Homo sapiens: one gene and its partner. The protein of the gene in region 1 purifies or fractionates together with the protein of each later gene. This does not show direct contact. Each region holds a gene or a part of one and is shown on either strand. Other genes may lie near its edges. The genes, in order: PLAG1 and UGT2B7.

Region 1 (3,830 bases):
TAAAAAGCCTTTCACAAGATAATGATAACATTTCACCAACAAAGCTCCTAATTTCTGGTATGTTTTTAGGTCTATGCTGCCGATTAAAGGAATTTTTTCTTTCCCGTTTATTAATTAGCAAGTGCTTTTCTGAAAGAGTATCTAAACTTTTGGTATAATCTTCTGGGATAGAAGTTGCCTTTACTATTAGAAAATATTTTGAGAGAGGAGGGGGCATCTTTTCTTAAAAGGCAACAGAATCCTTTACAGATTGTGAAGGATGTGCCATTAGAGAGTCTTGAACTCTTCTTTTTTGAGAATGAGAGCCCCCTTTTAGCCTTTCACTCATTAAATATTTGAATTATTATTGCAGACCAATATTGGAATTGCACATATATATATTGATTGTGATTTCCTATCTTTTTGTTTCTGAATGTGATAATATTCTCAGAATAAGTGCTATATGTTAAAGGCTGCCATATCAGTTTTTAAAAAATTATCTCTCTTTAACCAGTGGTTAGACATTAGAGCCCTTTAACTTTAAAATACATTTTTGGAGACTGTTAAACTAGAAATCAATTAGCAAATAAGGAATTTAGCCCCTTTGGCTCAAAGGCAAAATTGGAAGGTGTCATAATCAATTTTATTCCTTTGAAGATACATTAGTAAATATTTATTGAATTGTTCTTGATCATGAGAATTTTAAGAAATTAAACCTGGAAACTTAAGATAGTTCAAGTGTACAGTTTCAAAATAACACCGGTTGGATTTTAGTCTACCAGATTTTCTCGGTAACTTGATTTTTTCTTGTATTGTCTTAATGCTGGAGTTACATAGAGCTCACGTCACTTTTCTTCATACCCTGAGAGAGTTACAATAAGTAGGTTTTATTTTTATCAACTTTGGACAATGAAGGGAAAATGCTGTTTTATTATATATGAGCACTTTCCTTTTCTTAAGCTATCTTCTGTATTTCCTAAACATAATTCATTTAAGCACTGCATTCCATTGAAGAGAAATTAGCTCCATTATTCTGTGTTACACAACTGCAACTTATGGAACAGTTGTCACTTTATATATTTGGATTGTTATGACCTTATAACCTATTATAAGCCTAAAAACAAATATTAATATAACCAGCATATCCTATTATAAATAAGCTACACCTCAAACATGAATTTGTTTTCCTTGCACCTTTAAAATTGTTTCTAAATAAATCTGAGAAAATGTTCTTCATATGTTTTGCTAATTTGTCATAGACTGAGGTAATTTAATTGTATAAATTTCAATCTAGATTTTTCTCTTCTAATGTTGGTAGCATTTTACTTGATGTTTACTATTCAATTTCATAGGATTTTAGCATTAGAATAGAAATAGATGTATAATAAAATAGGTTAATTACACCAAGAGTGGTGGAAGCAGCCCTACTAGTTATTTGGAAGATTTTTAAAATGTTTCCAAGAAGGAAAGTTTCTGTGATGATCAGGCACACCAAACAGGAGTTAGTGACATTTTATGTTTTTCTTTATCTTGCTTCATAAAACGTGAGCATTCTCAGGGCTACTGTCATACAAACAAATAACTGATTTAACTATGCTGTATGTTAAGCACATCTATCAGGTCTAGCTTTTAATGTAATTTGCTCAGTTTATTTTTAAGAAAAAGGTGTAAGACATTTTTTCAGCAATAATTTGGCATATATTACGTTTTGAAAGATGCTGTATTAAAATATATTGTCATATTTGCTTACCCAAATCAAAATGAAAGTAAACTATCAAGTAACAGGCTTAATTAGACATAGAATGAAAGCTTTAAATATTAAACTGAATAACTTGATTTACTGCTGAAATATACATAATTTTAATTCAGATAGTTGTTTTTGTATCTGAATCTACTTTTTATGCCTAGAAATTTGTAAACAAAGTACAAAATACACATATAAAATTCTGTAGACGTTCCTAAGCAGCTAGCCTTTAACAGTTAATAAATTTATTAGTTTTTTTTCAAATATGTGGTCAAAATTACTTAAAGATCGTGATATATTCAATTATTTTCATTATTCTTCAAAGAAAAGTAGTGACAAATAGGTCAGTACTTGGTTGAATGTCTGTTGTATTTAAATTCTTAATTATCAAGCATTTAATACTTTTAATGGTATTTCAATTTTTTAAGTACAGTTACAGATGTTTTTCTTAAAAGCCCTTCTTTTGGGAAAGTATAAACTAATGTCTGTACTTCCTATCTCACAATATTGCTGCTGAGAGATTGGTGACAGACAGTTATTTTAAAACTTTACTTCTGTAACTGCTTTTATTTAATATGTTCTCAAGATCATGTTATTCTTAAATTCCTATCTAGGAGCACTTTTAATCATAGCCTGGGTTATCTTTTCAGCTGTATACCAGAGATACAGTTGCTCTACTTAAACATTAGATCTCATGTGGTGCTTGAATTTAATTATTCTTAGTTCACCTTTTATCCCTCAGTGCAGGGAAAAGTAGAGAAAGCAGTTTGTTGTGGGAGAAGTGCAATTGATCACATTCAGAGGCTGACTCATAATAGCTTTTGTACAATGCATGATACTCTTCCAGAATTAAAAGAAATTTTTTAATTGAAGCCAAAATACCCGCATGTCTAAGTTTGTCCTAATCAGATTTCAGGCACACTTGTGTGCTTCCATTGGCCCTTCCAAGTGTTCTTGCTGTTTGCATGTGTTTGGTTCTCAGTGCTGCCACCCTGTGTATGGCAGTGCCTTACGTAGACTAGTTTTCTGTGCTTTTTAAAATCAAGCAATAACATCCAAAATCACTTCTGGAAAATGAGCATATGTATTAAAATTAATATAAAAGTCATTGTGGTATACTCTGGTTCTGTGTTTAATGCTGTACTAAAATCTAGATCTTTTTCAAGTTGCACAGTTCAGAAGTGTGGTCTTCAACTGCTAAGTATAAAATTCAGAAAATTTTAAAGATAAGTAACTTTATCTCATCCATCATTTCACTGAAATAAAGTAGAATTAGACTAGTATTTTAAATCTAGCTTGAAATTGATCAAATAAGAAAGCAGAGGTTCTGATCCTTTAAAGATGAGATGTTACAAAATTTTTTATTTCAGCCAAGTTTTAGTTAAAGGTTTTTCCTAGTAAAAACAAAAAAAAAAAAAAAGAGCCCAAAAAGAAACTGTTTATGTTTAAAAGAAAAAGAAACTCAACTTGATTGGTTGAATTATTCCCTGAATCGTTAGCAACATGACTTTTATAACTCTCAAAATATTTTGAGTATTAATGCTATGCTTCAGCCATAAAATACTTTGGCTACCTATCAGTCTTTGCTTTTACCTATATTATCTCATTTAGTTTTCACAGCAATCTCATGAGATAGGAATTGCAGGGATAATGTGTATGCAAGAAGCAATAATGATTTCAGAAGGAATTCTGTTACTTTTTGTAAGTAAATCTTTAGAATGGACAGACCTATAGCAGCTAATTATTATATGTTATTTGGGTAGTATAAACCTAAATTATGTCCATATTGAAGTTCATATATTTAAGAAAATTGTACATTCTTACAAAATGAAGATTTCAGGCATAGAGTTGACAGAGTAATTCGAGTTAGAAAGTGCTAAATGTCAACTTATCTTTAAGCTGTACATAAGGAATTGGGGAAATTTATCAACTTATTAAGCTAAAGGAGATTTTTCTAAAGATATAAGTATAAACTTTGTCTCATAATAAGGATCTTAAATAGGTAATTTTATTAATTTTGGCCTTAAATTTGTTGCAAAGCTGTCTGATTTCAGAATAATGAATAAACATTTTTCCCCAAATTTTTGAATGGTCTTATTTCATTAAA
Region 2 (4,475 bases), on another chromosome or scaffold:
ACAATGTTCATAACATCTTCACCAGGAGTAGATTCCATCTCAGGAAACAAGTTTCTTTGCCCCTCCAAAAGTAGTAACTCCTCACTTATTTGTTTTATCATGAGATTTCATCAATTCTGTTACATCATTAAGTTCCACTTCTAATTATAGTTATCTTTCTAGTTTTATTATATTTGCAGTTACTTATTCCATTAAAGTTTTGTTATAGGACCAACAGTTTCATATGCTTACTGTCCAATAATAGTCCAATTACACTGAGACGTCAGATTTGGCAGCAAAGAAGGAGTTTAATAATTGCAGGGCACTGAGCAAGGAGATAAGAAGAGAACCCTAAATCCAGCTCCTCAAGGAGTTCTGGGTTGGAGGTTTTAAGGAGATCATAGATGGTGATAGGCTGGAAAATTTGGGTAATTGATTAGTCAGGGTAATAGGGTAAAGTCATCAGAACAAGAAACTACATTATTTGCTGAGTCAGTTCCTTGTGGGGTCCTCTAGATCAGCTGGCATCAGTGAAGTCTTTCAGATCAGCTGACATCAGTGAGATCCTTCAGACCAGCCGAGTCAGTAGTTTTAGCAGTATGCTGGACCTGAAGGAATACCTCAAAAGGAAAGTTGATCATTTCATAATGTTTAAGTTAATATTTATAGAAGGATTAAGAGGAACTATAGTCTTGTAACAGGGTCTGCATAATTCTAGGACAACAGCCAAATAACTGTGAGGAAGTGAGTCGGAGAACAAGCTAACCTAATGATTAATGCTGAATGTACTACAAGCTTGGTTTACTTTTCTCTTTTTCTTTCTTTATCTTTGATTACTTTAACAAAGTTTAAAAAGATAGTGTCATCTTGAAACTCTCAATATCTTACATGATGGTTGTAAGAATCAACATGTATACGCTATATCATAAATGAACCTTTAAAATATTATGTTACATAAAAGAAGCCAGTCACAAAATACCACATATTGTATGATTCTATGCATTAAAAATTGTCCAGAATAGGCAAATCTATAGAGATAGAAATTCAATTAGCAATTACCTAGGACAGGGGAAATGCAGAAACTAGGGGTGGAGAGAAAAAGGCTAAGGACTATAGGGCTTATTTTGGGGAGATAAAAGGGCTCTCCAACTGATTGTTATGGTAGATGCACAATTCTGTGAATATACTATGAAACATTAAATTTTACACAATAATTGATAAATAGTATGATATTTAAATTACATGTCAACAAAGTTTACAAAAATATGTGGACCATGTTTAGTCATTTAATCTTTAGTTTTGTGTCAAATGGACTGCAGAAACAAGATCTGTCACTGCTACTGTTCTGGACACTCTTCTAAAATATATTGCATAAGACAGATGGCATGTCCATACAAGATCCTTGATATTAGCTGAAGGATAGCACTCATAAACATAAAAGGGAAATTAATCACATCTGTGTGAACAGATCATTTACCTTCATTTGTCTCTTTGCCATCCACATGCTCAGACTGTTGATTTAATGATATTGTATGTACTTTGACTTATAAGGGTTACATTTTAACTTCTTGGCTAATTTATCTTTGGACATAACCATGAGAAATGACAGAAAGGAACAGCAACTGGAAAACAAGCATTGCATTGCACCAGGATGTCTGTGAAATGGACTTCAGTAATTTTGCTAATACAACTGAGCTTTTGCTTTAGCTCTGGGAATTGTGGAAAGGTGCTGGTGTGGGCAGCAGAATACAGCCATTGGATGAATATAAAGACAATCCTGGATGAGCTTATTCAGAGAGGTCATGAGGTGACTGTACTGGCATCTTCAGCTTCCATTCTTTTTGATCCCAACAACTCATCCGCTCTTAAAATTGAAATTTATCCCACATCTTTAACTAAAACTGAGTTGGAGAATTTCATCATGCAACAGATTAAGAGATGGTCAGACCTTCCAAAAGATACATTTTGGTTATATTTTTCACAAGTACAGGAAATCATGTCAATATTTGGTGACATAACTAGAAAGTTCTGTAAAGATGTAGTTTCAAATAAGAAATTTATGAAAAAAGTACAAGAGTCAAGATTTGACGTCATTTTTGCAGATGCTATTTTTCCCTGTAGTGAGCTGCTGGCTGAGCTATTTAACATACCCTTTGTGTACAGTCTCAGCTTCTCTCCTGGCTACACTTTTGAAAAGCATAGTGGAGGATTTATTTTCCCTCCTTCCTACGTACCTGTTGTTATGTCAGAATTAACTGATCAAATGACTTTCATGGAGAGGGTAAAAAATATGATCTATGTGCTTTACTTTGACTTTTGGTTCGAAATATTTGACATGAAGAAGTGGGATCAGTTTTATAGTGAAGTTCTAGGTAAGTATTTTTTTCAATCAGTAACATGAAGCTCTAACTTATTTGTGTCTTTGAAGCAGAGCTTATATAAAGCCATAAAGTCAGGGTAGTGGGGTTTTGGTAAGTGAATTTATAAAACAAAAATACAAGATGATCTATTAATCTCACAAATATTATAGAAAAGCTTAAATTACAGGGTCAGTTAAAACCCTGTGGCCATCACTCACACAGAACACCCCAGGAAATCATAAACCTATACATTAGTGCATCTAAGACTTTAAGCAATTACACATCTGTTTTACTATACATTGTTTTACATCTTAAAAACAGTAAAATCCATCAAATAACTTCTTACTGAATGCATAGATTTAGAATGAGTAGTTACACATTTTTCTACAACTATCTATATAACTGCAGAAATTGTTTTTTCTTGTAAACTTGTTTTCTTATTTAGAAATCAAAAGATGTTCCCATATTACCAGAAGGTTTCCTTCACAGTAAAGAGAGATAATGTCTATACCTCAGATGCAAAAATCAATAAGGGCAATTTGAAGTTTCTAATGTTTCTATACTCTTTCACGAAAGAATTGGAAATCATTAATTTAAAGTCCAATCATCTTGTTGAAGTGTGAAGGTTGTTATATCTACATAGTTTTTTGAAACTATGTCTCTTTATTAGAACATATGAGACAAATTAAGGTTGAGTACAAATTTTTATTTCAATAATTTCTCAAAAATTTCTAGCTATAATGTACAAATATATTTACTTAAAAATATTATTAAGATCTTAGCTTGAATCTAAAAGAGTAGTTGGTACAAGGATTTCAGCCATACTCTCAACATAGTCCACAGTTCACTTGAACCAAAGATAAAAGAATTAGCTTAATGAGTTGTGTAAACTAGACTATTTCTTAGAAAATTATTTTTATGGGTAGAGTAGAATTAATTGATTATGGAGCTCAAAGAGTTGTTTAAATGTCCGTATGCTACTATTGAAGCTTTAAGAGAAAAGAAATTTTCTGTTTAACTTTCTATGGCTCATTTTAATAATTGTTTATGATTATGAGCATACTGATGCGACATTAGAGATGTAGCTTAACCTCACAATTCTCCTACTACTTTGTCTTTCTTATAAATACACATGGGCAAAATATGTAATACATAAAATTAAATTATATCTATATATGAATATGTGTATATATTTTTCAAAGCACAGATATTTGCCTACATTTTTGCCTACATTATTCTAACCCCTTTCAGAAATTTACCTAAAGTAATTATCTTGTGTCATCCACCTTTTTTTTTTCTATTCCTGTCAGGAAGACCCACTACATTATCTGAGACAATGGGGAAAGCTGACGTATGGCTTATTCGAAACTCCTGGAATTTTCAGTTTCCATATCCACTCTTACCAAATGTTGATTTTGTTGGAGGACTCCACTGCAAACCTGCCAAACCCCTGCCTAAGGTAAACATACTTTTGTTGGTTTTATTTTGTTGGCTTTGAATTTTCAGTAGAAATGATTCTATAGTCTTCTTTCAGAGTGTTTGACTTACACTGAAAGAAAGATGGGAAATGGGTGGGGTAAAGCAGATACCAATTAGAAACTCATGTGCACGTTAATACCATCACACGTATATGAGTTTTATGAGTATTACAAATAGAGAGGAATACTAAGGAGACTTTGAAAATAGGGTTGGTTAAATTAAAGTCTTCATTATGCAATACCTAAGAAGGTATTGGTCATCCAATCAAATAATATTTACAAAGGGATTAGCACAAAACACAGGTAAGTGCAGAATTTTCAGAGAAAAAAATAGACACAGTTTCTGTCCCCACATACCTTACATTCTACTTCAAAAGATAGAATATGTGCAAGTAATAAAAATTATATAAAAACTATTATCTGAAGGAAAAACGCAATACCAAGAAAGCATCAGTGGAGATAATAGAAAGTATCCTGCAGTCACTGATTAGTAAGATGAGAGCTGAACAATATGCAGGAATAGGTAAAAGAATGACGGGGAGAGACAGACAAAAAAAAAAAAAAAAAAAAAGAAGCAGGTAAAGTGGTCAGGACAGTTCTCAAGTCCTCAAGTTTAGTTTGCAGGGAGAGACTAAGACTCGGATGATGGTGAGAGGCA

Evidence for each region.
Region 2: the proteins of PLAG1 (region 1) and UGT2B7 purify together in Homo sapiens (co-immunoprecipitation; one study listed by IntAct). This does not show direct contact.

What each region holds. Positions count from the first base shown.
Region 1 is NC_000008.11:56,201,274-56,205,103, reverse strand, and holds part of PLAG1 (zinc finger protein PLAG1), read left to right. Parts: intron 1-3,830. UniProt on the Homo sapiens protein: Transcription factor whose activation results in up-regulation of target genes, such as IGFII, leading to uncontrolled cell proliferation: when overexpressed in cultured cells, higher proliferation rate and transformation are observed.
Region 2 is NC_000004.12:69,094,891-69,099,365, forward strand, and holds the start of UGT2B7 (UDP-glucuronosyltransferase 2B7 isoform 1 precursor), read left to right. Parts: upstream 1-1,583; 5' UTR 1,584-1,630; coding exon 1,631-2,351; intron 2,352-3,649; coding exon 3,650-3,798; intron 3,799-4,475. UniProt on the Homo sapiens protein: UDP-glucuronosyltransferase (UGT) that catalyzes phase II biotransformation reactions in which lipophilic substrates are conjugated with glucuronic acid to increase the metabolite's water solubility, thereby facilitating excretion into either the urine or bile.